Linked DNA regions of Homo sapiens: all the other regions are linked to region 2. The links come from fine-mapping of genetic effects on gene expression. A gene starts in region 2. Each other region holds a variant in brackets. All regions are shown on one strand. Distances are from middle to middle. Region 1 overlaps FCN1 (ficolin 1). Region 2 holds the start of OLFM1 (olfactomedin 1). Region 3 overlaps COL5A1 (collagen type V alpha 1 chain).

The links. PIP is the estimated chance that this variant, and not a neighbour inherited with it, causes the effect.
Region 1: its variant is the best candidate, but not a certain one, in a credible set for the expression of OLFM1 in monocytes (CEDAR, PIP 0.61).
Region 3: its variant is the best candidate, but not a certain one, in a credible set for the expression of OLFM1 in esophagus mucosa (GTEx, PIP 0.82).

What each region holds. Positions count from the first base shown.
Region 1 is chr9:134,906,289-134,917,148 of GRCh38, forward strand. FCN1 (ficolin 1) reads right to left here. Exons shown (of 9, transcript NM_002003.5): 2 at 10,060-10,173; 3 at 8,468-8,521; 4 at 8,097-8,132; 5 at 7,293-7,325; 6 at 6,728-6,855; 7 at 6,198-6,327; 8 at 4,845-4,979; 9 at 1-3,757. The coding sequence ends at 3,510. Among named protein-coding and RNA genes, the nearest start is that of FCN1, 6.2 kb to the right of the region's middle. The variant AT/A (reference allele first, on the strand shown) is at 5,748.
Region 2 is chr9:135,082,028-135,092,887 of GRCh38, forward strand. OLFM1 (olfactomedin 1) reads left to right here and starts at 5,641. Exons shown (of 6, transcript NM_001282611.2): 1 at 5,641-6,112; 2 at 8,168-8,317. The coding sequence starts at 5,963. RefSeq lists enhancers at 3,941-4,801, 4,802-5,662, 6,297-7,101, 7,102-7,905 and a silencer at 9,926-10,083.
Region 3 is chr9:134,805,867-134,813,719 of GRCh38, forward strand. It overlaps COL5A1 (collagen type V alpha 1 chain), which reads left to right. Exons shown (of 66, transcript NM_000093.5): 42 at 323-430; 43 at 3,317-3,424; 44 at 4,389-4,442; 45 at 5,473-5,526; 46 at 5,626-5,733; 47 at 6,583-6,636; 48 at 6,739-6,846. Among named protein-coding and RNA genes, the nearest start is that of MIR3689C, 40 kb to the right of the region's middle. The variant G/C (reference allele first, on the strand shown) is at 4,488.

The DNA.
Region 1 (10,860 bases), 180 kb before region 2:
AAAAACTCAATTCATCCTGAATATTTTAAGTTTGGCTTACAGTTCTTGTTTTTCTATTTATAAGACCTGCAAATCTTAAGAGTCACCTTTTTAGAGCTTTTGGATACCATAAATTTAGTTCTTTAAATAACTTCAAACATTTAAAATTGCAATAAGAAGTGGAATACACTCAAATTTCTCCTGCGGCATTTCAGCTGTCTAATGAGAAAACCCTCCTTAGCACTAATTAATCTTTAAAAATCTAATAATTTAACTTAAATCTTAAGAAATCTAATAATTTAACTTAGAAATGCAATGAGCTCAAAGTCTCTTAAATATGCCAATACCGTGTATAAACGCACTAAGATTTCCATGTAATATTACAAGATGATTTTGATTAGTTAGTTCCACATTTTATATTGGATTTGTGAGATTCTTCATAATAGGCCAAATTATTTAAACATTACAAGACTGTGAAAAATCAAACCTGTCCAGATTCCTTAATACAAAAGGCATATTTTGGCCAGGCACAGTGTCTCACGCCTGTAATCTCAGCAATTTGGGAGGCAGAGGCGGGTGGATCACTTGAGGTCGGGAGTTCAAGACCAGCCTGGCCAACACGGCGAAACCCCATCTCTACTAAAAATACAAAAAAATTGCTGGGCATGGTTGTGTGTGCCTGTGATCCCAGCTACTTGGGAGGCTGAAGCATGAGAATCTCTTGAACCTGGGAGGTGGAGATTGCAGTGAGCTGAGATCACGCCACTGCACTCCAGCCTGGGTGGCAGAGTAAAACTCTGTCTCAAAAAACAAACTAAAAGGCATATTTCTATGGCTATTTTATATTTATATTAATCATATTTATATTTTATATTTATACTAATCATTTCTAGACTTAAAGCTAAGTCTTCCTAGGTTGTAAAAATGCTTACCTACTGAGGGACGAAAGTACTATCCCAATAGTGGATTTTGTGATGGACTAGAGATTGTGGCAGGGGCGTAGTAGGGTCTGGTCAGCCCCCAATGGGCTACAAGGACCTCTCCTTACAGGTATTGAGTCAAGAACACTGGGCATCAGTGGAGGATGTGCCTGTAGCTCATGTTCCTGGATCCAAGCATGTGCAGTTTCTTTATAAGTAGTTTTTAAATTGTGGAACATAACATGTACTCAAAAGTGTATAAAGCAAAAGTACAGCTTAATTATTTTCATCACTAGTTAACAAACATCCTTACAATCACCACCTGGGTCAAGAAACAGAGCATTGCCAGAACCCCAGAGGCTTGTCCCTGTCCCTTCCCAGTCACCATGTGGTCCCACCCTCAAATACAATCACTTTCTTATTTTTCCTGTATACATTTACCACCTAAATATGCATCCAAAATACCATTGGCTACTTTTGCTTTTGAAAAACTTTATCTACAATGGAATCCATAGCACATACCCTCTTGAACAGGCTCCTTTTGCTGCCATGTTTGTGAGACTCATGCTCCTTGTGTGTAGGTGTCACTGTGTAATTGTCATGGCTGTATGGCGTTCTACCCAATGGCTATCCTTGCATTTTTTAACATCCATTCTCTTCCTGATGGGTATGTCGGCTGATTCCAGTTTGGTGCTATGGTGAGTATTTGGCTGTAAAGATTCCTGGCCATGCTCCCTGGTACACATGACGGCCATATCCAGGCCCTGATGTGGGACTGGCAGGTTAGAGGACTGTGTGTCTTCTTCTCCAACAGTTGATGCCAAGCCATTTTCCAGGTTGGTTCCATCAATTCGCATTGTTACTAGCAGTGTATGCAAATCTCCCTCCCACAGTCACCTTTGACACTGGTGCTATCCATCTTTCTAACTTCTGAGGCTCAGATGAGGGTGCCGCAGTGACTCCTTTGGGTGCTGATTTGCATTTCTCTGGTAAGTGAAAAGTGGAGCACTTTTTGATAAATACCTTGCTCCCCTGCATGTCATCTTCTGTGAAGTGTCTGTTCACATCTCATACCTTTTTTTATTTAACTGAGCTGCTCTAATTCTTTTATTATTTGCAGGAATTCTTTCAGGTATAAGCCTGTGATTTATTTATTTTTGTATAAGGCATGGTAGGCAGAATAATTCCCTGCCCCCACCACTGCCCCGCCAAAAATGTCCTGCCCTAATACACACAAAGTCAGAGCCTGCAAATACCTTCCATGGCAAAAGAGACTTTGCTGATGTGGTTAGGGATAGAGACCTGGACATGGGAGAGGATCCCAGATCATCCAGGTAGGCCTAGTCTAATCCCATGAGTCTCAGGAGTGGAGACCCTGTCCCATGGGGCTTGGGGGGAGAGGGGACAACGGATGAAGGGTCAGAGAGATGTGGTGCTGCTGGCTTTGGGGTTGGGGGAAGGAGTCCGGGCCAATGAATGCCAGTGACCCCTGGGGCTGGAAAAGGCAAGGAAGCAGGTTCTCCCCTAGAACCCTGGAAGGAGCCACCACTGCTGAGTCCTGCCTGCTGGCCCAGTAAGGCCCAGGGACTCCAGATCTACTGAGCCAGGAGGTGGCGAGTTCTTGTTGTTTCAAGCCACTCCATTTGTGGTGACTGGTTGCGGCAATAGTAGAAAACTAAAGATTTGTGTGCCGCACGTTGATTCTGCCCCTCTGGCCTTCCTTTGGTTCCCTTAGTGTCCTTCGGTAAGTGGGAGCTCTTGATTTGAATGGAGTCACACTTGCCACATTCCCTTTGATGCTTCTTAGGTCGTGGTTGAGAAATCTCCCCTGGCCTGGGAGCTGGAGAAGCCCCTTCTCCATCATCTCCTAGAAGCCTTGTGCAGCTTTTCCCACTGAGGTCCGCGGTCCCCTCTAGCTGAGGTCTGTGTGTGGGAGGAAGGCCTCTTCGGAATCTTCTCTGTGCAGGTGGCTGACCAGGCGCTCACTTAGTGAGTGCTAAGTGTTTATCTCTTCCCAGCAGCCAGCCAGCCCAAAGCATGAACTCTGCCGTGGTGGGAAGCAGAAAAGTTCCTACTAAACTTTCCCCCTTTTTAGTAAGTGTTTTCTGGACCCCAAAGTGACCTTTTTCAAGAAGTGTGAAGTGTTGTGAGTGAGGCATGGGGGGATGGGGGAGGCTTGGGGGTGGAGGTGAGGATCGCCCTGTGTCAATTACTGGAGGTGGAAAATCCTCGCAAAAGTCACTCAACCTCCCTGAACATCGGTAGTGCCATCTGCTAAATAAGGGTCCTGACTCTTCCCGACTTACCAAATTCCAGGGAAAGACCTGCCGTGCAACAGACACAGGAAAGTGATCAAAACCACTGGTGTTCAAGAAACACACATTGAAACTGGTAAAACTTTTCTGTCCCAAAGTAAACATATTTAGAAACATAATTCTCCCTCTGGTGAGGTTGTGGGCATGTGGCGGCTTGACTGAGCTGGGGGCAAAGGGGCAGCTGTGGGCGTCATGGGAGTGTGTCTGGCTGGGGAAATGGGGTGACTTCCACGACGCAGCGCTTGTGGGTGTGGCCTCCCCACTAGCAGGTGCATGTGGAGGGGTCCTGGCCCGTCTAGGCGGGCCGCACCTTCATCTCTGACACCTTGTAGCTATATTTGTACCCCTTCGCCGCACTCCAGTTGATACCATTGGCATAGCTCTCATGGGGTCCCATGAGGTAGAGACCATTGAGGTTTGAAGCATGACAGTCGGCGTACCACCAGGCTCCTTGGAACTTCTCAGCACAATTCGAAGAACTCACATCATTGTCTTGGTCTTTGGTGGAGAAGAAGTTGTTGTTGTGGCCCGTTAGAGAATTACCTGCTCACAGAAAATGTGGGGTTTGCAGATGCTGGAAAAAGCCCTGCCACTGTGAGACCCTCACCACATCCTGCCTCTGAGCAGAGCCAACCTCACTTTAGCGACGCATGAGCCGAGCTACAGGTGCACAAATGACCCACCCAGGCCTTGGAGGAAGGGGAAGCAGGAGGCAACCTCTGGCAACCTGGTCTGGAAATCTCTCTCCACAACCTGAGGCCCCTGCTCCAGCAACCACCTGTTTCCTCCAGGGCTCCCGCAAACTGTCAGGCCTCCTGCTCTCTCCTGGAATGACCTCCCTCCTCCAGCCTGCGCCGCTCCTTCCGGTCTCTCCCCACGTCCCCTGGTGGCCCTTGGTAGGTTCAGGACAGCCCTCACCTGGGGGCTTCTCCTCTATCTCAAGCCCTGAGCCGGAAGCTCATCCCTGGCTCCTATAGCTGAGAAATGTCACCCCCTGAGCCTCGGTTTTACCACCTGCAAAATGGGGGTGACCTTCCCTGCCCTGCTGCCTTCCTTGGAGGTCATGCGTGAGATCGTGCCTGTGAAAGGACTGCACAGACTCCAAGGCTGTCATTTCCAAGGCTCCCCTGGGACTGCCTTGCTCCATGGAGCAGTTAGTTACACAGACTTCCAGCTGCAGCAATTCTCAGTGCCTTTCACGAACGATGTGCACTGGGAATTCCCTAAGCAGACGCCCTGTAGGAAATGCCTCCCCAGATCGTGTAGCCAGAGACTCCTTTTGGTAAAGAATGTCCCACAAGGCTGGTGTTCCATGGAGCACAGTTTGGGAAACAGCTCCAAGGCACCCATGAGAAAAGGACGACGTCTTCCAGGTTTCAGCAGTGATGCTGGTGGGTCGTCTCAGCCCTGCCCAGGCAGCTCACTGTGCGGCAGACATAGCCTTAGGAATACCAGCCGCTATGTCCTGTGAGCCCCACGCTGTACAGAGACACAAATGCTAGTGTCTGCTTCATAGATGGAGAAATGGGATTCAGAGAGAGGAGGGCCCAAGGTCACCAGGGGAGACAGAGCCAGGTTCTCTCTGCTTTCCAAGCCCCACTCAGGCCACCAGCCCCAAGCAGACACTCACCCGCACTGCCCCCGACAAAGGCTCCCAGTACCAGCTTGTACTTCTCTGCCTCGTCAGCCACCTTGAATGATTTGTACTTAGCAAACTGGTGGTTGCCCTCAAAGTCCACCAGGTCTACACGGAGCTCGCTGCTTCCTGTTGGAAAAAGATTTTAAGGCCCCAGCCTTTAAGATCTTTCTGTCACCAGGCATGAGGGCTGGGGATGGGTAATTTTTTTTTTTTTTTTTTTGAGACAGAGTTCCGCTCTTGTTGCCCAGGCTGGAGTGCAATGGCACCATCTCAGCTCACTGCAACCTCCGCCTCCTGGGTTCAAGCAATTCTCCTGCCTCAGCCTCCCCAGTAGCTGGGATTACAGGTGTGTGCCACCACACACAGCTACTTTTTTTTTTTTTTGTATTTTTAGTAGAGATGGGGTTTCACCATGTTGGTCAGGATGGTCTCGATCTCTTCACCTCATGATCCACCAGCCTCAGCCTCCCAAAATGCTGGGATTACAGGTGTGAGCCACGGTGCCCGGCTGGGGATGGATATATTCTTAAGGGATGTCTGAACGTGGCATCCAGGAAAAAAATCAACCGGAAATGTCAGAAAATCCCTTGTTGCTATCAGGCCCTCAGGGATGGCTTTCTGTTTCTAAACACCTTTCCCGTTATTTCAGAGAACTGAACATGCCCCACTGGAGTTCACTGGGTGGAAGGGAGCATTCTTTCATTTTGAAAGTGTACCTTCTCCTTCTAAGGGTTGGTGAGCCACTAACACAGCAGTGGGCGAAGCTCTAATTGTAGTTTCTTTTGCAGGAATTTGAGGCACCTGAGTGGATTCCTTCAATCATGCCACAGGGCAGTGGGCAGGGATAATGGACCAGCAATTATACAGACTGCCTCAGGACCAGCTGTGAAACTC[AT/A]CCCCTGCCCCAGAGGGTTGGGGGGAGGCCCTCTCACTCAGGTGAGTGCGGCTGTGGGGGGCCTGCTGAGGCGTGGGCTGGAGGAGGCGAGCGTGGGCTCTCCATGGGACTAAGATGCCAGCTTCAGAGGCAGATCAACAGCTGGAGATGGGGGAAGGCTACCCCAAGCCCCAGTGGTCTCTCTCCTGCTTCCCACTCTCAGGATCTAAGATGCCAGTAGGACCAAGACCTGAAGAGGCCTTCAGCCCAGGGCTCTAACCGTTTCCCTTCCCGATGTTGCCAGAGCCTGCGGCAGGGGACGCAGCCCTTAGAGGTCCCAGTGCCACCTGAGTGTGCTCAGGGCCCAATCCCCTGTGGGCCAAGAGGTGCTTATGTTGCAGATGGCCCAGGCCTAAGGGGCAGGAGCACCTCAGGGCCCCCCAACCCCTGAGCCACGGCAGTGGCCCTACCCTGGGCAGTCAGGGCGTGGATGTTGTCATTCCCCAGCCAGAACTCCCCCAGCTGACTGCCGAAGCCCTGCTTGTATGCGGCCCAGTCCCGATAGAAGTCCACAGAGCCATCCATCCTCCGCTGGAAAACCTGTGAAGAAGCCAGGATACAGAGTTAGGCGGGGCAGGCCGAGGTCCCACAGCACCGGGGACCCGCCCTCCAGAGGAGCAGCATTTGTAGTTGGCAGAGCATCACAGGCCGGTGCCACACGCACGCCCATCTGGTCTCCTCACAGACTCCACAGGATGAAAGAGGAAATGCGGTCTCAGAGAAGAGAGGCAACAAGCCCCAAGCCACACAGCAGGAGAGCACCGGTCCCCTCCCAGCCTCCCCGATGGCCTGGACTTTTACCCACGGGTCACTTCCCCCATCATCTATGATTGTCCCCATCCAGGGGAATAGAGAATTCCAGAGTGTGTTCTACAACCAGGTGTGCAGCCTGGCCTCCGGGACTCCCAGGCTGACCGCCTCTGCCCAGCCCCACACTCACGGTCCAGCCCCCTCCGTCCGTGTCCATGTCACAGAGCACAGTCAGGGGCCGGCAGTCGGGCAGGTAGATGGTGTGCCAGCCGCTCAGGAAATACCCCCGGTCTAGCAGGTCCTTGCAGTTGCGTGGGCCTGGGAAGGGAACCCGGGGAATGGCTGCAGGACGGGGGCCCTGGGCAGGACAGGGGCAGTGGGAGGGAGGCCCAGGAGGGAGGAGGAGGGCCACAGGCTTCTGTGCGGACCGAGCAGGACTCCGAGGCCTGGACAGGGACACGGCCCCCAGGGCCACGCAGCTGTGATGCCCACACCCAGTCTGCCGACCCTCCCACCTCCCAGTGTCTGCCCCACCTTTGCCTCCTGGGCACCCGGCCTTCTAGGGTAGATAATAGTAGAGCCCAGGTTGTCATGGAAGGGATTCAGGTGATAGCTGCCCATTACTCGAGTGATTGAGGGGGGGATGATAGGTGCAGACAGGGTTCTGTCCTTAGATTCCGTAGCGTGAACGTGTGCAGCTGGCCCCAGGGGTGGGGGCAAGGCTTGGGTACCGAGGTCAGGGTGTGATCAGTCACCTGTCGCACACGACTGAGACTGCCCAGCGTCTCCTGTGTGGGGAGAGGAGACACTTGTCATAAGCTTGAAATCAGAGCCTTTGTCCTGGTCAGCCCCAGTGGCTCCCTGAGCACAGAATAGAGAATGGGCAAAGGCAGCTCCTCTGATGTCTCCAGGACACGTGGCACAGGCCTAGGGAAGGATGGCCAGACTCGACTTCCCCAGAGGCACCAGCCACATGGTTGTCCATAGGCCCCTGCTGTGCAGCTTGAGCTTGGTGGGCTGTGGCAGGCGCTGCGGGTCCTGCTGGACGAACTGGACCCCTAGTGGGGCCTTCGCCACTGATAACAGCGGAATAACTCTTCAAGCCTGGCAGGGTCACTCCAAGCCTGCCCTGCCTCCGCCCTGGCCTCTGTTTCTTGGGACTCAGGTATCGGCGGACCCTCAGCCCCCGGCTCCGGTTTTCATTTGTGTTTGTGGGTGGAGCGTGGTACAGTGTATTAGAGTCTTGCACATTTGGCTTTTTTAAACTTTTACAATTTTTGCATAAATGAGCATAAGTAAGACAGAAATTGAAATATTGAAGTGTCACCATCTATGCACTGATGTGGTCCTGCTGGCCACTGGGAGTGACTGCTGTAGACACCAGGGTTTGAGCCCTCGTGGATTCTGACAACAAAGCCCGCTGGACTCCTTCCACCCCTCCCTGCCCACAGCCTGGATTGACAGGGACGTGGGCGGTGGGCAGGCGGACTGAGGCCTCTGAGACCCCTCCCCTGGACAAAGCCTGCAGAGACAACTGCCTGGGCCCACGGGTGGCTCACCTTTCTCTCCACGCATCCCCTTCTCTCCTCGGTCTCCTGGAGGAAGAGGCAGGATAATGAGCTTTTGACCCCAGATGTGTGGGCCACGGAAAGGCTGGTCCAGAGTGGGCTCCCGGCCTGGACACTGCATCTCCCCAGCCCTGCAGGCTCACTAAGGCATCACAACGCCCAGGTCTCAATGGTGGGGAGGGGCCCCGAGGCCTGGAATATCCCAGGGTCCCTGTCCGCCTGCCACTGTCTTTCTCTCTCTGTTGCCGTGTCTCTCTGTGTCTGTGTCTGTGTCTCTGTCTCTGTCTCTCCCTCCCTCATTTCATTACAGACAGCTCCAAGGTCCCTGCTCAAGGCCTCCTCGCTGTCTGTCCCCTGGTTACCTTTGGGCCCCACTGGTCCTGCCTTTCCAGGGGCTCCAGGGAGACCGCGTTCTCCTGAAAATTCCAAAGACATATCACTGAGAAAAATGCAACCTAAACAATTCTCCCTGGAAATCTTTGCCCCAAGTGGTTAAGTCCTGACCCTCCCCCACTCTGCCTTGAACCCCTTCTGGTTCCAGGAGCTCTCAGAATTGCTAGCCATGGATTTAGCCTGGGGGTGACTGCAGATGGAGGTGAGGGATTGAGGGAGGGGCCTGCACCCCACCTTGGGCTCAAGGCAAGGTGCACCTTGCTCCTGTTTGTGCCTTGGGAGCAACCTGGGTTTCACACTCTGTTGACCATAAGCCTGGACCCAAGTCACCCACACAGAGCTCTACTGCCTAGCAAGGGACCAGGTTCTGGAACAAAGAATGCGTCCTCAGAGAGCCTCATCCTACCACGTCCCCACACGGAGAGGGTGGGCGCCACGTGCAGCCGCTGCTGCCAGGGAGGATCCGGTTCCACCGTGCGCCTGAGCTCCTGGGGTGTCACACAGCGCTCCACGTGGTTCTGGCCAGAAAGGTGACCCTCCCGTCCCCGATGCCAGCCAAGAGGCAGCCCCCAGCCCGCTCGCTGACCCCAGTGGCTGGGGAGAGTGTATGGGGGCTGGTTCTTGCTTTAGGGTATATTAGCCAGCCATGCCCACTGGTAGAAGCCTGGTTCAAGGGAAGTCTGAGCCAGACTTGATTCTTCTCCTGCCAGGGAAGGTCTTCCTCCCCAGTGTTCCCTCAGCAGGGGATCGGGACCGCACTCTCAGGTCCAGCCTGCGGAGTGGGCACAGAGGACCTGGCCCCGGACACCCACACGGAAGCCTAGACACGTCAGTGAAAGTCCAAGTCATAGGGACATTTGAGCTTGTCCCATCTACACTGGGACATCCCCACCAAGTGCTCCGCAGGCATCATCTTGAATGCGTCCAGGCATGGGGAGCTCACCCCCTAAGGCAGCGCCCTTTCTGAGTTTTTGTGCACGTCTGCCTTATGCCATGCTTAGGGGGACCCAAAACCACCCAAGGCAGGTGCCTGCTGTTCATTCTCCCATGTTCCCTGCAAATCCACATGCAGAGCTCAGGGCTCAGGATTCGGGTGCCCTCTGTGCCCTGAAGTAGACCAGTCCAAGTCCCAGCCCCACTCCTTACTGGTTTGTCAAGTAGGAAAGCCTGTGACCTCTTTGAGTCTCAGTTTTCCCATATGAGGCAGGTGCAGAAGAAAGCGGTCACCTCAATTTTCAGGTGAGAAGGTGGAGGGACACAGAGCTTAGAAGTCGTGCCAGTAGCTGAGCAAAGCTGGTATTGGATCAAGGACTAGGAGACAGAGCTACAGAAGCATGTCCAAATGTGAGCTCATGAAATAGTTAGGAAAGACCCTCCCTCCATTTCAGAACCCTGTTGGGCCCTGGGAGTCAGCTCTGTTCCTGGCTCTAGCAGGGGCCTGACCCAGGCTCTTGATCTAGGAACCACGGTGGGGGTGTTGCCCAACTCTGCATCCAGTTTCATAAAGAGCAAGAGCCAGTGCCCCTGCCATGCCTGGCCTCCCCACCCGGCCCGCACCTACCTCTCTCTCCAATGACACCTGCCTCTCCCTTTGGCCCTGGGGCCCCGGGCAGCCCCGGGCAGCCTCGGAGAATGGTGAGCTTGTCAGAGCCCTCCAGGCCCACCACCTTCACCTCTGCAGAGAAACACAGGTGCCCACTCAGTGCCTGGCCCAACAGTGGCTGGGAAGTGAGGTTTTCTGCTCTGCTGGGGCCTTGGTCTGTCCTCACCCCTCAGGCACTGGTGAGGCGGAGATGTGATGGGGGGCAGAGCTCTGGCTTTGGAGGCCACCCCGACCTAGGGGAGCCCCATCTCCTCAGTGCTGTGTGTCCTGCAGCAAGTAACTTAACTCCTCTGAGCTTTGTGCCCTGGGCTGCCAAGCGGGGATAATAACAAGGTTGCGGCCAGGATTTGGTTAAAGAATGTGCATTTTAAATCTCTTATTGTAATTTATGGCATTTAGAAAGAGCTTAATAAACAGCGGGCACTTTCAATAACTAATGACAATCAATATTTCTAAGAAACTTGGGGAATTGGGGCTGACAAAGCATTTTCCCTCCCAGACCTTGGGAATGTGGTTGTAGAATTACTGGGCTGGAAGGGGCTTTCTAGGTCCTCTGGAGAGGGGCAGTGTGGGGTCCAAGGACACAGAGCCAGGTGTGGCACAGCTGCAGCCAAACCAAAGTTGTTTACTTCTTTGAAAAAATATTTTTCATTTTGTTCATTACAAAATCTACACGCCCTGCTAAGGGCGCTCTTAGAGACCATGGAACGGAGCAGTGCTCTCACCGGAGACATGGCACTGCCATTTTTGGGGTATTTC
Region 2 (10,860 bases):
GTCAAAGCTCACGCCCCTGCCTGGGCTCCAGCTGGTGATGGCAGCTGCAGTGTTAGCAGACCTGCTCGCCCCAAAAGGACATCCCAGCAGCAGGGATCTTGCCCGTATATTCCTTATGCATGGTTCAATGACAGTTAAAATCTGATTGGAGAGTGTGTAGCCATGAAAAGTTGAGATGAAAGAGTGTAAGGGGGAGATGGGAATGAGGTCGGCTCCCCAGCCCTTGTCCACATTCAGATCAGCAGTTCACAGCATCGCTTTGGGCCGTCCCTAAAGTGGTTCCATTCCAGCTAGTGGTTTTAGGTATACAAGTTGTCTTCGGGGAGTTTAAACCCTGCCGCGGGGATTTCCCTACCATACAAAATGGCTCTCCTGAGTGGTGCTGAAAAGAAAGTCTCCCCCACTTGCTTCTGGTGATGCTTCGGGGGCCTAAGAGTCAAAGAAAGAACATGAGTGTATCGTAAATAACTTTACTCCATGCACTGAAGGATGTGGTTTTTGACAGTGCAGTGGGACTCAGAAATGGGGAGCCAGCCATTTACCAACAATTTGGCTGTCAACTTGAGTCCTTGAACCCCTGCCCAGCCTCCTTCCCAGCCCCAAATATGCACACACAGGTTTCCGTTCCCAGGCCACTCAGCCTCAGCATCTTGTCCCACAGATGCACAGACTGAGTCAGCTCTGAGTGGCAGCAGGTGAGGGGTGTTGACGGACCCAGGGGTGCTTTGTTCCATCAGCAATACAAAGGATGATGAAACAGGAGATTCTCCCAGGGGCTGCAGCAGTCTTGGTGAGAGGTGGCTAAGAACGTTTCCGAGGCCAAGTCCAGGCTCCACAGGGCAGGCCCCATCAGTAATGCCCGGGAGCCTCCTGTGCAGAGGCCGGGTGTCGTCTGGATGCAAAGAACTTTGTTTGGAATCTGGCAGCACCAAATCCTTGGCTGTAAGCAAATGGTGCCACCTGGGGCATTTTCCACATTCCCAGCTGGACCCTGGGATTGACTCTTTGATGTTTCTCATCATGATGTCACCTTTGAATTCATGTCAGGATCAATGACTGATTCCACAGAAACCGGGCTGCCTTTCCCAATTAGTTACGGTGAGTTTCCTCACCTGGGAAGTAGGAAATGATTATGTTTGTGGGGTCCCTGAAAAACGTGCATTCAGCCCAGAGGGTGACGTGTCTGCTGAATTGTCTTGTCCCTGTTCTTCAAAGTACCACTCCCAGAATTGGCCTCTTTTCCATTCGGCAACTAAGGGAATACAGAGCTGTGGCTTCCCTTGGCCTGGCTGTGGCCAGGCTGAGACGATATCCATGAAAGAGGCGTGGAACCTGCCAGGGAGAGTGCGGAGGGTGCATGAAGGGTCTGGGGGGATGGGGGCCGTGGACAAGTCAGCTCTCTGGATGGACAAGGAACTAGGACTGAAGAGCTGGACACGAGGCCAACTGCTGAATGGAGGAAACGTCCCCCAGCAACAGCCATGGGTCTGTGGGATGCTCTCCCCAGGGCAAGTAGCTCCCCATCACTGTCACTGGGGGACTTGAAGAGCTGACACTGAGGGAAAGGGGGAAGGACGATACCTCGGAGGAAGTTGAATCTCCTGGGTCGGCAGCTCAGGCCAGCCGTGCTCACAAACCCCAAGCACAGTGGCTCATGATGGCAACGGTGTGCATAGGGCACAGGCTGCCTGGGGGCACCTCTGGCTCACATGTCCTGTCATTCGAGGGCCCTGGGCAAGGGAGGGGCCCTCTCTGGATCTGTTTTCCTCATGACAGAGGCAGAGAGACAGGGTGTGACTGAGACATTTGGCTCTGAAAGCTGCTCAGTCGTGGCCCTTAGCCGTTCTCCCTCCCGGGGCCAAAATCGCAGGTCACACAGCCACGCCTGATGCAGGTGGTGTTTGGGAGACTGTCAGCTTATGGGAGGTGCTGCCAGGCACAGGGAGCCGGGCCAGGATGGAAATCCTCTCCAGGGAAGGGGGTGAGGAGCAGTTACGCCTCCACCCATGTGTGAACCCAGAGGCCTCAGAGGAGGGGAGTACAGGGAACACTTGGCTCAGAAGACCCATGCTGGTCTTCTGTGGCTGCCGAGAGGGAGTGCCCAGGGGACCTGTGGCTCCTCCCATTCTGCCTGGCTTGAGGCCAGGTCCTTTCCTTGCTCCTGGAATGTTCCAGCACAGAAAGGGAATGAAAAAGCTACATACAACGTAGAAAAAGGAGAGGTGGCTCCATGTGGGACCTCTCTCTGTGTCTCTTCTCTCTCTGTGTCACTCTATCTTTCTTCTCTCTCTCTCTTCTCTCTCTGTCTCTCATCTCTCTCTCTGTCTCTCCTCTCTCCGTCTCTTCTCTCTCTCCTCTCTGTCTCTATTATCTCTCCTCTCTGTCTCTCTTCTGTCTCTCCTCTCTGTCTCTATTATCTCTCCTCTCTGTCTCTCTTCTCTCTGTCTCTCCTCTCTCTGTTTCTCCTCTCTTCTCTCTCCTCTCTCTCTGTCTCTCTCTCCATTTCTTTGTCTTCCTCTCTGTCTCCTCTCTGTTTCTTTGTCTTTCTGTCTCTCTGCCTTTGTCTCTCTCTCTCTCTCTTCTTCTCCCCTTCTCCCTCCCTTTCTTCCTCCCCTCCCCTTGTTTCCCTTCAAGATATTTGCCAATAGCCTGAGGAGAGTATGCGTATTTTTAAACAGCAACCGGGCATCCAAACTTTGTCCCTTGAGGGCATCCTTTGCCAAGGAGCATCGGGAAGTGGCCCAGAGACCTGCTTCCCTCCAAGCAGCCACTCCTGGCTCTGGGACCTGAGTAGGTTTGCATCCTGCGGACCTCACTGTTCTGACTGTGGGTGTCAGTGGTCGTCTGACTGTGGGTGTTGGTGTCGTCTGTGCCCTATCAGCTCACCATGTGGCTGTCCTAGGGCTTCTCGAGGTGATTCCCCAATAGCCCACGTGTGTCCGCCTCTTGTAAGGTCTATAGCAAGCTGGGCAGGAGCACCCTCTCACACTTGCGTCTTCTGAGCTCTGAAGCCGGGAGATGCAGAGGGGGTGTGCTTGTTTTTATGTGTGTTGATGAATTTGTACAGAGTCCACCAAGGTCAAGGCCTGTAGGGGGCTGGCATGAGGATAGAGACGTGGCTGTTCTAACCTGTCATGACAGGGAGGGTGGTGCAGGCTCGTGCCAGGACTCAGAAAGGGGTGGGCAACCTCCTGTCCTTCCCACGAGCGTGGAAGGCAAGGGCCCATGAAATGTCTTCTGGCGGCCTCTGTGGCTCGTGGAACTGTGCGGACAGCCAGGGCTGCTGTGGCCATGCAACTCATGCCACTTCTGGGGCTCGTGAGATTTAACTATGGCCATGACATTTATAAGACGAGGATGCCACCATGTGTATGGGCTTAGCCCTGGAAATAGGCTGTCACCATATGACCTTGGACAGGTCTTATCATCTTTCTAGGCCTGAGATTCCTCATCTATACAGTGGAGTCAATGCCACCACACCATGCACTTCAGTAAGGATTGGGTGCCAGGCATGGCAAAGCCCCAGTGCCACCAGGGGCGCAGCACCTGCCCCATCAGCATCCGTATGATTGTTCAGAGCTGCAGGTGTGATGAGCCCTGGCTTTAAGAGAAGTCGTGAAGAAATTGGGATTGAAAGTCCTCTTTAGGAACACTTGGTATTGCCTGGCGCCATGGATCCCCTAATCCAAATGCCTTCATTCTTCAACGATCCATACTTTCCTTCTGGAATGCTCCATGGCCTTCTAAATCCAATTACACTTACTCAAGCCTTATCTGACGACCCTTTCAAAACCATTATGCCCACTGAATCACAGATTTTAGAAACTGGACAGGACAGTTTGGAGCAGGTGCAGGTTGGAGCCGCTCAGGTGCAGGTTGGAGCCGCTCAGGTGCAGGTTAGAGCAGTCCAAGTGCAGGTTAATCTTTTACTTCGTTAAATAAATAAATGTCTATGGCTTCTGAGATGGCCTGACAGTTTTGTGGATTGGATTGGGTTGCATTTGAATTTGTTCCCGCAGAACAAGTGGTCCTTGTCCTTCCGCAGCGGGAAGCGGCGTGAGTGATCTGGACAGACACGGCTTGTGGCCTTGAATCGGTGTTAAACATGCATGGCCAGAGGAGGGGGGCGAAGCCAGCCCAACCGGACTTGTGTCTCCGCCTGGGCCCAGTCTGTGAGCCGGGCCTGCAGTCCCAGCTTACACTGGGAGATGGCGCCCTTCCCCAACAGTTGGAATTTCCTGGCATCCGACCCAGCCCGGCTGCCTGAGATTACAGCATTAATCAGAAAAGCAGATCTGAGGGGCTCATTTAACTAGCGGGTCTCACACCCAGCACTCAGGCCAGGATCATCTTGGCTGCAGCTGAAGTCTCTTCAGCCGAGGACTGCGCACACAGAGAGAAAAGCCCCAGGAAGGCGTTGTTCCTCTCAGGCGGGCGCCAGGGAGGCGCGCTCCTTCCGGCCCGGCGTCCGTCTTTCAAATCCCATCCAGGAAGGGAGATTAATTTTCGCCCAGGCAGAGAAGAGTGTAGTGAGTGATCTGGAGGATTCTTTCCTTCCCAAATGGCTGGGAAAGCTTAATGGAAGGCCCCGGAGGAAGTGGCTTTCATCTCCGATTAGAAGCCTTCTGTAAATGCAAAAGCCCTATTAACGTGTTTGACCCAGTCAGGCCTGCGCTTCAGGTGGGACTGACACGCGTGAGTCCTGCTGCGGTCGCCGCAGAGGGCCGGGAAGAGGGGCAGCGTGCGCCACTTGCCCTGCCTCTGTGCCTGGGCGCCATGACTCGAGCGCCACCCCTGAGTCAGTAAGGACACCCCCCAACCCACACCCCTCCACCACAGACCCCAGTCCCCGCCCCACACACCCACCTCCCCAACACCAGGTTCATGGGCGTGGTCCCTTCAGCTCCTGAGGTCCAGGCCTGAGCCCCAGACCTTATGCAGCTCCTGCCGGGTGTGCGCCCTCCCAGGGCCCTCACTGCGCACCGCGGGCCACGGCAGACCACCCCAGCCCCCGCCTTGCTGTGCAGGTGTCAGGAGTGCCGGTTGGCTCCCTTCCTCCCAAGCAAGGCCTTAGGGCACCGCGGCTGCCCTGGGATCGCAGGGGCGCCTTTAGCTCTCCACCGATGCCCCGACGCCCCCCTGGCGCTGGAGGCCCTCGCGAGTCTGGCTGCTTTTCGGAGCCTGCCCTGCCTGCTGGGTTTCAGGCGACGGCCCAGGCTGGCTGGGACCCTCGAATCACCGCGGAAAAGGGCTCCAGTAGGCAGGACGGCGCCGTCTCTCTGCCGGCAACCTTTGCCCCAAAGCGGACCCTCTGCGGGGATCGGAGAGGGATGCCCCGGCGTGAGGATGGGAGAAGCCCCGGGACGGGAGGGCCGCGGGCCGTGCCCCCAGCTGGAGTCCCCGCGCCGCCGCCGGGTATTTTATGATCTGGGGGTGGTGGTGTGTCCGTCTCCTCATGTCACCCTGATCCCAACTCCTGGGCGGACTGGAGTTTGCAGACCTCGCTGCCAGCAGCCAGGGGGCGGCGGGGAGCCGAGCGAGAGGAAAAATCCACCCATTTCCTGGGCGGATTGCGTCGGTCCCGCCCGGCCGAGCCCCGCCTCCCGGCCGCGGCCCCCGCGCGCAGCCCGCGCAGCGCTCAGAGCCGGACGGCGCTTCCCGGTGGCGGCGGAGGAGCCCGGAGGGACGCAGCCGGGCAAGGCAGGGCGCAGGGCGGGCGGCGCGAGGCGCAGGGCGCGGCGGGCAGAGGCCACCTGGCCACCTTCCCTGGCGCCCGGGGAAGGCGCGGCGATGGCCGGGGCGCGCGGGGCGGCGGCGGCGGCGGGCGGGCGGCGGCGGGCCGAGGGGGCGCGGGGACACAGCCAGGCGCCCCTGCCCGCCGCGGTGCCCGCCGCCTGAAGGCCGCCTGGGCGCGGGAGCCGGTGCCAGCTCGGAGCGGGCGCTGGAGGCAGCTCGAGGCGCGATGTCGGTGCCGCTGCTCAAGATCGGGGTCGTGCTGAGCACCATGGCCATGATCACTAACTGGATGTCCCAGACGCTGCCCTCGCTGGTGGGCCTCAACACCACCAAGCTCTCGGCGGCCGGCGGCGGGACGCTGGACCGCAGCACCGGCGTAAGTGCGCCCGCCGGCCGCCTTGGCGCGGCTCCTCCTCCTCCTCCTCCTCCCCCTCCTCGGTCCGGAGCCCCGGGCTGGGCGGGCGCCGCGCGGGACCCGAGTCGCCCAGGGAGGCGGCGGGGAGCAGGGCGGGCAAGGGCAGGCGTCGCGGGCCGGCGCAGCGGTGGCGACCCTGCTCCCCGCTCCCCCAGCCTGGGCCACTCCATCTCCGCCCGCGCGCCCCTGGGGCGGCGTTTCCTTCGTCTGGGCCCCTCGCCGCGGGGCCGGGGGAGCTTGGTGGGTTCTCGGAGGCTTGGAGTCCTGGGTCAGTAATCATGAGCCCCCCATTGAAAAGGTTAGGAAACTAAGGCTGGGGACTTGGGGACTTGTCCAAGGTCACACTCAGCGAGTGAGGGGTGGAGCCGCCGCTAGACCCTAGTCTGGGCTCGGTCCAGCGGGGACTGAGCCCGCCCTAGTTTGTAAAAGCCAGACTGGCCGGACCGGGCTGGGAGTGGGGCCCCAGCCGGTGGGCTCCGGAGCTCCTGCCCGCGCCTGCATTCCCAAAGTCCCAAGGCGCCCTTTCCTCCCCAGTCCATAGGAGGGTTTGTTCCTTCTCCTCCGAGGACGGTGCCGAGGGGCTTGGGTGGGGCCCCTGGGAGCCTGCCCTTGGGCGCTCACCCCCTCGCCTTTGCCTTCGTCTTCTGCGCGCACCCCTCCCTCCTGGCCTCTGAAATTGAAATCGCGTCTCCCTCTCGAGCCTAGCGGGAGGGGAACCGTGGCCGGGGCTGCTTCTGGGCAGAGCTGACTTAGATGGCTGAGCGAGGCTGAGCTGAAACCGCCACCCGGAGGGCCGCGCGGGGAAGGGGCCGCTGCCGGGAAGGCGCGCCCCAGACCACTGGCCCTTTAGGCTGAAAGGAGAGGTGAAGGACGTGAGTCTCCCTCCCTCTCTCTTTTTGCTGCCAGGGGTTTAGTGCCCTGCGAAGAGGGCTCCGTGGTGTGGCTCCCTCCTAAGACCCCTCTTGAGGCCGCCCTCCCTGCTCCTTCAGGAATCGGAGGGCGATTCCTCCATGATGACTTTGTTCCGGCCTGCCGGTCCCGATCTTCTGGGGTTGGGAATGAATGAGATTAAAGATATGACTACTATAGATTCTACCCGCCCAACTTCTCCTCCCCATCTTCATGCTAAAAATAGCAGAGAGATGACCTGATGCCACCGGAGGGGAGCGTGCTCAGAGACAGTAGGGCCAGCAGCAGGATGGAGCTGTGTAGGCTCAGGAGTGCCCGCCCCGGTACCTGGCAGGGCTGGGCTGCAAGGTTAGACCAGACATGGGCAGCTCCGGTTTCTTTGGTGATCTTTGGGCAAACCTCAGGACTGAGGTTGGGGGTGACCCCTGCACAGCATGTCACCAGCAATTTGGCGACCTCCACCAAATGGCTCGTGGGGGGAGCCCACAAGGAGCTGGAAACCTAGTGTTTTCTCGGGTCGGTCTGTGCCACGCTGCCGGCTGGGAGGTTGCTGTAGCTCGGGGTTCATCACAGCTCTGGGCGAATAGGCTGCTGGATCTGGGGCTGTTACAGTGGGTGCTTCGTCTGCAAGTGTCAGGGAACGGCAGGGCGAGGCTTGGTGGTGCCAGCCACCCGTGCTTGACTTACGGGAAGGATATCCTGTTTCTGAAATACGTGCCCGCTGCAAGCCACCCAGCGTTTGCTTTCCTGCCTTGCTCCTAGTCCAGCCTGTGGCCTCCAGTTGCCCCTCCCATCCACCCAGCAGATCAATTTGGCCAGACGACAAACTCCAGACATCCCTTGAGTTGAACTTAAATTTTAAGAACGTAAAGGGTCTTGCCTCTTTGACATCCTTCCAGCCCTGAGCCCCCTAACAGGAGACCTGTGCCTCTTTGTTCCCAGGGACCCTTTCTTCCCTTTGGGTCAAACATGTCTTGGGACCATTTCCTCCCATCTTTTCCTTGGGGGTGGATGTGGACAGTTTCCCCTGGTTGTTGGCTCTGATACACAACCTCATGGTCTCCCTTTCTCTCCTTCCCTCTCCCTTCCCGCCCCGCCCCTCTCCAGGTGCTGCCCACCAACCCTGAGGAGAGCTGGCAGGTGTACAGCTCTGCCCAGGACAGCGAGGGCAGGTGTATCTGCACAGTGGTCGCTCCACAGCAGACCATGTGTTCACGGGATGCCCGCACAAAACAGCTGAGGCAGCTACTGGAGAAGGTGAGTCTGCGCAGAGTGTGTGAGTTTGTATGTGTGTGTGTTTGTGTGTGTGTGTGTGTGTGTACATGCCTGTGTGCTCACACCAGCACCAAGGCTTGGCTAGCTTGCAGGCCCCATTTTGACTCTTTCCTGGTTTGTCTCCACTCAAAATATTTGTGAATGAGTGAAAGGGTGGATGGACGGATGGGTGGATGGGTGGGTGGATGGATGGACGGATGGGTGGATGGGTGGGTGGACACACAGGTGGATTGAGACTTCCAAGGGTGGTCCAGGAAGAGAGGACTAGACCTGCCCCCTGTCACCACAGGCTCCACTGAGAAGTCACATGGGCATGGTGAGACGGGACACAAGGCTCGTCTCTGAGTGATGTCATAATCTGTGTGCACAGGGCTGGGGCTGTCACCCAGCAGCTACCTTGGAGAGCGCCCATAGGCCCAGGAATGCATGGCCATTTGGATTTTACGAGATGAGATCTTTTTTCTGCCCTTGAATGGTTGTACCTGGCCAGTGGCTGGACAGGTGCTCATCACCATGAATGCCTTCCTGGGGCTAAAGCAGGCCATGCTGTCACCTTCAGAACCACATGGGAACAGCAGGTTTGCATATGTCGTTTGCATAACATATTTTGAATCCGTTATTTCACTTAATCTTCACAAGAACCATGTGAAGTTGGTGAGATTTTTCACTCCAGTTCAAGAAAAGGAAATTTGGCTCCCAAGGGGTGGACTTATTTGTCCCAAGCCAAACAGCTGTTAGTAGGGAAGTGGGCACTCGGACCCACATGGCCGAGCTCATCACCTGGTTCAGTCTCCTCCACTCCCCACTTTAGTCAGGGGGCCTTCTCCTAATGGGCACAGCCCACCAGCCTTTTGGCACATTCCACCCAAGGACCCCGTATTCTGTGGTTAACCTGGGTTCTGGGGGCCCCATAGGAGAGTTACCAAGGGAACAAGGAGGAATGGTGGGCCCTTCTGTTCCACCCATTGATTCCCCAGAAGAAAGGTGCATTTGCATGTAGTGCCTATGGGCAGGGAACTTTCCCACCCTGAGGGAGTGGGGTCACACCACACACACGCACACTCACAAACACACTCACACATAGTCACACACACACTCACACACAGTCACACACATTCACACATAGTCACACACACATTCACACAGTCTCACACACACATAGTCACACAGTCACACTCACATAGTCACACACTCATAGTCACACACACACACAGTCACACACTCACAGTCACACACTCACACATAGTCACACAGTCACACACACTCACATAGTCACACACACTCACATAGTCACACACACACAGTCACACACTCACACATAGTCTCACACACACACAGTCACACTCACACATAGTCACACACTCATAGTCACACACACCCACACATAGTCACACACACTCACACAGTCACACACACACTCACACATAGTCACACAGTCACACACACTCACATAGTCACACACACTCACAGTCACACACACACTCACACATAGTCACACACACTCACACACAGTCACACACACACTCACACATAGTCACACACACACACACATAGTCACACACGTTCACACACACACAATAGTAAAGCCGTGACTCTTCCTGCAGGTTGGCCTTGGACTTTCTGGAATGGGCGTCAGCTCAGGAGTATGGCAGGAGGCCTGTGAGGGGCGGGGGGCCTCTGTGACTCAGGGCTGGCTCCGTGCTGGGGGGACAGATGGTGCTGTCACTGCCCACCTCGTTGGGGAAGGTGGGAGCAGCCTGGTGAGAGGACAGCATTGACCCGACTCGGGTCCACATTCCTGGTGCTGAACCACAAACCCTCAGGAAGCTCGAGACAAAGCAAGTCCCCTTCCTTGGAGAAGGAGAGGGTGGGCTAGAGGTTTCGAGTGCCCACCCAGCTCTGACGGGCCTTGAAAGGTCCGAGTCACTGCCTGTTCTGTGTCCCAGTCCCTGTCTGGAATGGCCACAGGACCCTTGTTTCTTGGGCAAGAAGGATGCATCATGGTACGCAGGGCAACTGGCCTAGTTCGTAAAGCACGCTCACCTTGAAGGAATAGAATTTGTTTTTTCTTTAGCCACCTGAGTAAATCATTTTAAAAGAATTAAAGTAAGATACATTTAACATTCCACCAACATTTATTAACACCAAACTAGACCAAAGCCTAACTGAGCCTTTAATTATTCAGAAGCTTAGATGGGGGAGGCGGCACTTGGAGGGGCCTCTGGGCTGTGGGGGCCGGCGAGAGTCAGGAGGGGAAAACAGAGCCCTGAGCCCAGGGAGGAGGCATTTGCGGGGAGAGCAGAGAGTTGGGAAATGGATTCCAGAATGCTCCATGAGCCCCTGGGACTGCAGGCCCTGGAATGTTCCTTCCTGCCTGTGCGTGCCACAGCATTACTGCTTAAAAATTTAAAGCCCCATTTGATACCATAGCGGGCACTCTATTTTCAGAGGGCATGAGCCATTTGCTATGAAAGAGGGCCCTTGCTCCTTAATGCACTGTGCATTTTAGCAGGAGGCAGCGCTGC
Region 3 (7,853 bases), 280 kb before region 2:
TGGAGGAGAGAGGGTGCCCCGTGGGCAGACCCTCAAGGGGAGGGGGTGCCAGGCTTCTAGAAGAGGGAGCCCATTGAAGGCAAGCACACCACAGGGCACACTGTCAGACACCAGGGGGAGGAGCACCTGGGAGCTTGGAGTTACAGGAAGACACAGAGCCCCGAACGCTAGACCAGGTAGTCTGTGCTTGCAAAGGGCCATAGGGAGCCACTGTGGGCTCTAGAGTGAGCAGGTAAGTGGAGTGATCAGCTGGTGCTTTACAAAGTCACGACCACGCAGTCTGAGAGCCTTTGAAGCAGACTGTTTTCTTGCTCCACCTCAGGGATCTCCAGGGGAGAGAGGTCCAGCTGGAGCCGCTGGGCCCATCGGAATTCCAGGGAGACCTGGGCCCCAGGGACCCCCAGGGCCGGCAGGAGAGAAAGGGGCTCCTGTAAGTACTGCCTTGGATTGGGGGAGCCCTTCCCTCAGAGATGCTGGGGTCGTTCCGTGTCTGGCCTTGTCCCTCCCCCTGTGATGTCCCCAGGGGTATTTCCTTGGGATTGGGGATGGGGTGGGGTCTGCGGCCCTCTAGGACAGAGCGTGTGTCCCATGGGAACCTGGTGACCTGCCTGAGGAGCACAGGAGGAGTCCTGGTGCCGGCCACATTCTTTCCGCCATCAGCTGAGCCAGAGGAGCCCTGTGGGATGATGTTGGGCCGGTCTCAGCCTGTCCACGCGTGCATGCTGGTGTTCCCCACATGCGTGGACAGAGGAAGGGGCCGAAGACAGTCAGTGCGCTGTGGACTTGGTCTCCGTCCAGCCTCAGTGCCACCTGTGTGGTCGGGCCACAGCTGCCCACTGTGTGAACTGTTCCCTGCTGCTGGCCCAGACCCATGGCTGGGCTCTTCCTAGGAAAGGATGTTTGGAACCGGGGAGTCCTGTTTCTTGGTTGGGGGGCAGGTGTAGAGAGCAGATGTCCAGCAAAGAAGGGGCAGGGGATGGGTGGATAACGGAAAGACAAGGCGCCTCCCTCTGTGTCCAGGAAAGCCCACCTGCTGGTAAGCCCCGAATTTTGCAGGCTTTGTGAAGCCTCGGGAGTGGGGAGGAGCATGTCTTGAGGCCACCCAGATCTTGGTCTCCAAGAAGGAGATGAGCGAGCGCCCTTTTTGCCTAGATGCTTCCTGCTAGCCTGCTTTCGTGAATAACCCACAAAATGCCACTTACCGTCCAGAAGTGGTCCACCCTGACCCGTATTTGGCTTCTGCCACACAATTTTGCAGTGTCCCCTACCTCTGCATTCAATCAGCTCTGGAGACCAATTTAATCTCAACTTCTCCTTCCCAGTACAGAGGGTCAGAATGAGCTTGAGTTCTCCAGGGGAATTGGCAGATAATCGGTGCAGACCATCTCAAATTGAGTTAGGTCTGAGTGCTGATTGTTAGAAAGCTGTTTTCTTTCTCTTTTTTTGAGATGGAGTCTTGCTGTGTCACCCAGGCTGGAGTGCAGTGGCGCAATCTCGGCTCACTGTGACCTCCACCTCCTGGGTTCAAGCAATTCTCCTGCCTCAGCCTCCCCAGTAGCTGGGATTACAGATGTGTGCTACCACACCCGGCTACTTTTGTACTTTTAGTAGAGATGGGGTTTCGCCATGTTGGCCAGGCTGGTCTCGAACTCCTGACCTCAAGTGATCTACCCGCCTCAGCCTCCCAAGGTGCTGGGATTACAGGCGTGAGCCACTGCGCCCAGCCAGAAACTGTGATTTTCTTGTACGTTTCACTCTCAGTGGCTCATGGGTGGCAGGAACAGCCTACATTCCCTGGGCAGGAACTTCCCTGGAAACCACATTGGAAACATCTGGGCCATTGAGAATCTGTTCAATACATTATTGGCAATTTTGGTGTCTTCTAATCATTTCCAGTGAGGCACCCAGGACATGGATCCAGCTGGATTCTGTGCCAGAAAACTGAAGCCAACTGGGCAGTCAGTGTATAGAGTGCACACAAAGTCAGCTGGAAATGGCTTGGTTCACAGTTTCAAGAGAGTAAATATTTGAGCAGAAACCTTGCAAGAGTTGCTCTATCCAGGCAGAAGCTCGTCATCCTCCCAGAATAGCTCCAGAGGGAAGGAAAGGCCAAGCAAAGGTTGGACGTCTCTGAGAACTCCCGACCTGACCAGGAATGTAGGACAGGAAGCTTCCACAAAAGCCCCACACGTGGTCTTTGCATTCTCTGGCTTAAGTAGGGTAGACATTTCTATGAATAGGAGCTCAGTTTGAGGAGCAGGACATGAATTGTGGAGGGAGGAATGGTAAGACGAAATAGTGATGGATGACTAAATCCCGGCTACATTTAGACCAGAACATTGAATGTACATTCTCTATTCCATGTTTCCCTTCCCAATGTGCACACCCTCCTTCTGTGTATCTGTCGGAAGATAGGGATCCCTGTCTGCAGTGAGAAAATATAGGCTGCTCACAGAGTGATGCGATGGCTGGTCAAACTGAGCAAAGCAAGAACTTAAGAAGGATCATTTGAGATTACCAAGCAGGCAGTTAGGAGGAAAATGAATCAAAGTTACAAGGACAGGAAAAATAGTGTGTGCGTATGCCTGCAAGCATGTCCTGTGTGTGTACCTGTGCGTGCATACTCATGTATGCATGCACATACATGTCAGTGTGCTTCTTTATATGTCCTTGTGTGTACATGTTGGTGCATATTCACACGTGTGCACATGTTGGTGCATATTCACACGTGTGCACATGCGAGTATGCTTGTTTTGTGCACATGCATGTGCATGCATGCATACCTGTGTACATAGGCGTGTTCACATGTGTGCATGTATGCACATGTGTGTGCGTACATGTCTTCATGTGTGAGCATGCATGTCCTTGTGTGTGTGTGCAGGGAGAGTGTCTGCAGAGAATGTAAAGAATCAGAAAGCTGGTGAAAGCTGGAGCTCAGGCTATCCTGGTGACTGGGCTTGGCTCCCGGTCACTAGCTTAGACAATCCACATACAGGCTCAAGAATTTGGCCGGCTGGATTTGGATCCTGTCTCTACTGCTCACTAACTGTGCCTCAGTTTCCCCATCTGTAAAAGAGCAGCCTTTCCTAGGATGAGTGTGGATTAATTGAAGCGATGCACCAGAAGTTCATGGTCCAGGGGCGGGCTCAGAGTCGGCCCTCAGTGGCCCTGGCTGAAATCCATTAGGACTGTGGGGACGGTCACCCTCACCAACTCCCACTTCCTGCCAGCGGATCCCTCTCTTGGGTAATGAGCTGGTGGGGGGATGTTCCCAGGTTGGAGCCACGTTTGACCTGAGATCTTCTGTATTCTCTAGGGCGAGAAAGGCCCACAAGGCCCAGCTGGCCGAGACGGTCTCCAGGGGCCTGTGGGGCTCCCGGGTCCAGCTGGCCCTGTGGGTCCCCCTGGAGAAGACGGAGATAAGGTAAGGCAAATCCAGAGTGACCCATGGCTGGGCCTGGCTGGGCAGACGGGTGTGGGGGAGGGTGGTGAATTTAAAGGACAGGATGCTGGCAGGTAGAGCGGCTCAGCCAGCGGAGTGATGCCACACCCACCCCGCAGTCCTGGCATTAGGGGATGATTTCACAGCAGCCCACTGGTAAATGGTAATACACGCCGTCCCCGGCACGCTCGAGGGACTTAGAAACCACACCCTCCTGTGTCATTTTGAGGTTGCCTGCAACATTTGCTGTGAGTAGCCACAGCAGAGAAAAATGCTCCCCGGTCCCCCCGAATAATTTCAAATTCCGAAACTGCGGAGCCCGGTTTAATGAGGTTTTGCTCAGTATCTATTTTTAAATGTCTCCGCTTGAATTATCCAGGCTCCCGTTCATTAAGAATGTGCTTTATAATTCCAAAACGATGGCTGCAGGAGCTTGCATTTTATCCTTCATTTAACGCAGACAGTGAAATTTCGCTGTGCTGTAACTTTCTATTGATGACCCCTCTCTGGGGACATTTCTGACTTTGTCACCTCTGCATGGATAATGCCTTACATCTCCGGGCGGGAGACAGCCTTGCACCGACAGGAACAACAGAGAGGATTTTAATAACTTCTTCGGCAACATAGTAATTGAGTTGCCTGTTGTTAGGTTGTCATGGTAGTGGCCCAATTTGAAAAACAGAGTAAATATTTTCAATATGACTTTTCCCACATCTTCAAGTCTACTAAAAGCCTGTCGAGCATCAGATCGAGACCTCGTCCCTTTTAGCCCTTGTATTAAAAAGGAAATCAAGCTAATATATGGAAACATTTATTCGTAGGAAAGTTTTAGGGCCACCTGGAAAGGACACTGTTCTTAATCTCCAAGAAAAATTCATTACGGGGAACAGAAAAGGTCCAAACGGTTGTCAAGCTTTCTAACCGAATCCCCCACACCTTCCCCTAGGGAGAGATCGGGGAGCCGGGGCAGAAAGGAAGCAAGGGGGACAAAGGAGAACAGGTAAGTATTGGCACGGGGGCGCGCGGCAGCCCCCAGGTCCCGGGG[G/C]GCCTCGTCGCAGGCTGTAGGCCGTGTGCCATGCACGTTCTCTTCCAACGTTGCTGATGACTAGCGGGACATGCTGTGAAAATCTCCCGTGCATGTGTGTTCCCACAACGTGTGTGTGTGCACACGCGTGCATATCTGGGAGTGAGTCTCTCTGTGTTAGAATGAACAGGAAGCATCCACCGGTTTTGCGAAATTAAATAAATGGAGTGTTTCTGTCCTAGAGGGCTTGGGTTCTGCAGACACACCCATTGCCCTCTGAGGTGAGGGAACCAGAATGCTCCGGCAGAGACAGCACCATTGACCAAATGCCTGTTCATTTTTCCCCTTTTGGTTTTTTCATCTGTTCAGAAATCCTAGTGGGTTCTTGCAAAAACCCCATGACTCTGCTACCAGCTCCCTCCCGATGAGTGACATGTCTTCTTATCCTGTACAGCCAGGCCTTTCCCCCAGTATGTTGATTCCTAGGCAAGCAGGATCCGTGCTCCTGGGAGGCCTGCCACAGAGGCTGTGTCCTTCTTCCAGCCGTGGGTTGGGCTACCAGGGCCAAGGGCACTGTACCCTCCTTGCTTGCCTCCTTCCCATGGTCCCATGCGGGAGGTCTCTTGAGGATGGCACAGCAGGGGACATGGTGCTGGGCGCAAGGGCTCCAGAGGAGCTTGTGATCCTGGACCCTCACTGTTGAAGGGGGCCTCACGTGCCCCTGTTGTGGGTGCATGATGGGAGCTGAGATGACACACGGTGGTCTCGAGAGACATTGGGGGCAGCTCTTTGCCATCCAGAAATGGGCTCAGGGTGGAACCAAGATCCTCATCTGCTTCCCAGAGCCTGCAGCAGGCTTGCATCGTGGTGCAAGGAACGACACATTTGGAGACTGAACTGACGACGTTGGATGCATCAGTCCCCGGGCTCAGGATGCGGTCCACCCCTCCCTCAGCCTTATCCACGATCCAAGAAGCTACCTATGTCTCTGTCTTGTTCCCCGCAGGGTCCTCCTGGGCCTACAGGTCCTCAAGGCCCCATCGGACAGCCAGGCCCCTCTGTGAGTATCCATGGTCAATGACCTTCGAAAAGCCCCACGCCCCCCCAGAGCTGCTGGCATTGCCAGCATCCTCACCCATGGCCGGTTATTTCCCTGCAGGGAGCTGACGGCGAGCCGGGGCCTCGGGGCCAGCAGGGCCTTTTCGGGCAGAAAGGTGATGAAGGTCCCAGAGGCTTTCCTGGACCCCCTGGGCCAGTGGGGCTGCAGGTAACTGTGGGGTTCTCACCACACCGGGCTCCTCCGCTTCTGACGCCCCCTGTGTCTTCATTGTGCTCTCTCCTCTTGTCTTTTTAAGAATGGAAAACTAAAGCCAGGCTGCAGGGGGCCTCCTGGGCCTCCTCATTCCAACTGGAAGTGCTGTAGCTTCCCAGAATTCCAGACATGCCCGCATTTACCACACTTCAGCAGTGGCATTTATTTCTGTGCTCATTGTGGAAACTGATGATTCGTGAGAAACATAGTAACAGTGACTTCTAAATGCACCTCCTAGAGATGACAACGATAAACATTTGGGCATGTTTCATGGCCATGCCTTTTAAATGTGTGTATTCTCATGCACAGAGGCGCATATGTAATTGTATTTGGTGTTTGACAATGAATCATGTCATAAGTCAGAGAGAAAGTTTGTTCCCAGCTTTCCCCATTTTCCATCCTCCATTCCCGTTTTATGTTACGAGTGTGTTGAATGCCATTACACATGACTTTCTATTTATTTGGAAAACATGATTTTTAGTCACTGCACAGTAAGCCAGCATCTGGTGGTGACATAATTTACCCAGGCGTCCCCTGCTGGCTCCTTAGGCTTTATTGTTTTATGGGTTCCTGCCATAATCACCTTTGTCGTAAATCTTTGCAATCTTCTCTGCTTATTTCCTCGGGCCGATTCTGAGACTGGGAACCCCGGGACGTCCTCGTGGGTAGCTATGCACAGAGAAGCACCTTCCCGGGGCTTCGGGGGCTCAGTGGTGCTGTGTGGGTGGAGGTCGTGAAAGCTGTGTGTGTGTTTGACATACACATGACAGAACAGCGCTTAACTGGGAAGTTTCCTGTTCTCAGGGTTTGCCAGGACCTCCAGGCGAGAAGGGTGAGACAGGAGACGTGGGCCAGATGGTAAGTGTGCCTGAGACTCCAAGGCCTTGCCGTACTAGCGGCTCATGTTTTGGGGAAACATTTGCGTTTCCTCTGGGCTCAGTGGTCTCTCCCTTTTCCTAGGGCCCCCCGGGTCCCCCTGGCCCCCGAGGACCCTCCGGAGCTCCAGGTGCTGATGGCCCACAAGGTCCCCCAGGTGGAATAGGAAACCCTGGTGCAGTGGGAGAGAAGGTGAGGCTCGTGCCTGCTCTGGTGGCAGATTTGCGGTTGTTTGAGGAGTGTGTGTGTGTGTCTGTGTGTGTGTGTCTGTGTGTATGTGTATGTGCGCATGCACACGCTTGTGGGGGTGCATACACGTGTGTGTACCTCTCTGTGTGTACACAGAGATGAGAAGTACTCATTTCTGTGGGCATGGCTGGTTTATTCCTATGAAGGGCATTTTGAAATGTAGGCAGATGCTTGTGAAATGGAACTGGGAACTCTGACTGTCCATTTGTGACAGCCTTTTGCAGAATTTCCAGACGATGCCCCACCAGCAAAGCCCCTGCCTCCTCCAAGACTCAGCTCTGGTGGAGATCATCTATTCCTTAAATAACTGGTGTTTCTAAGCTTGCAGTTTCCATTTCAGCCGAATTATTTTCTCAAATGGGTCCTCTCCATTTGATCTGATTGGTTTTGGAGCCCAGACTCCATGAGCGTCATGGACCCAGTCGTGTGTGTGTGTGTGCCTGTGTGTGTGAGCTCCTGTGTGCACATCGGTGCATGTGTGTGTGCCTGCATGCTGGGTGGGACAGCATTTGCCTGACTGCAAAAGCACCTCTCCCAGTTCCCCTGGACAAGAGGGAAGACAGAGTGTACATCCATGCACTTGAGCCCCCTGTGCACCGTTTCCAGAGCTTTCTTTCTGACATCAATCAGGCCATTAAATTGGAAGACGCCTTCCACCGCTGCTCATTTTTTATGATACAGAAATTAAAGAGGAATATGCCCTGCTGAGACCACAGGGTGATGGTGTGCGGCTTCTGCTCAGAGAGGCGGTGTTTTCCTTGGTGTCCCCGCTGTAGGGCGCATGTTTCTGTTCACCTGCTGCCACTGTGCATGCCCTCTTCCCTGCGTCCCTCTGGCCTGTGTCCCTGAGGACTGCGTGCCTGTCCTCCTGCCTCGGCCCTGGCCATCCCCCACCTGGAGTGCCATCCTAGCCACTTACCAGCTTCTCATAGTTGCCCTCCACAACCCTT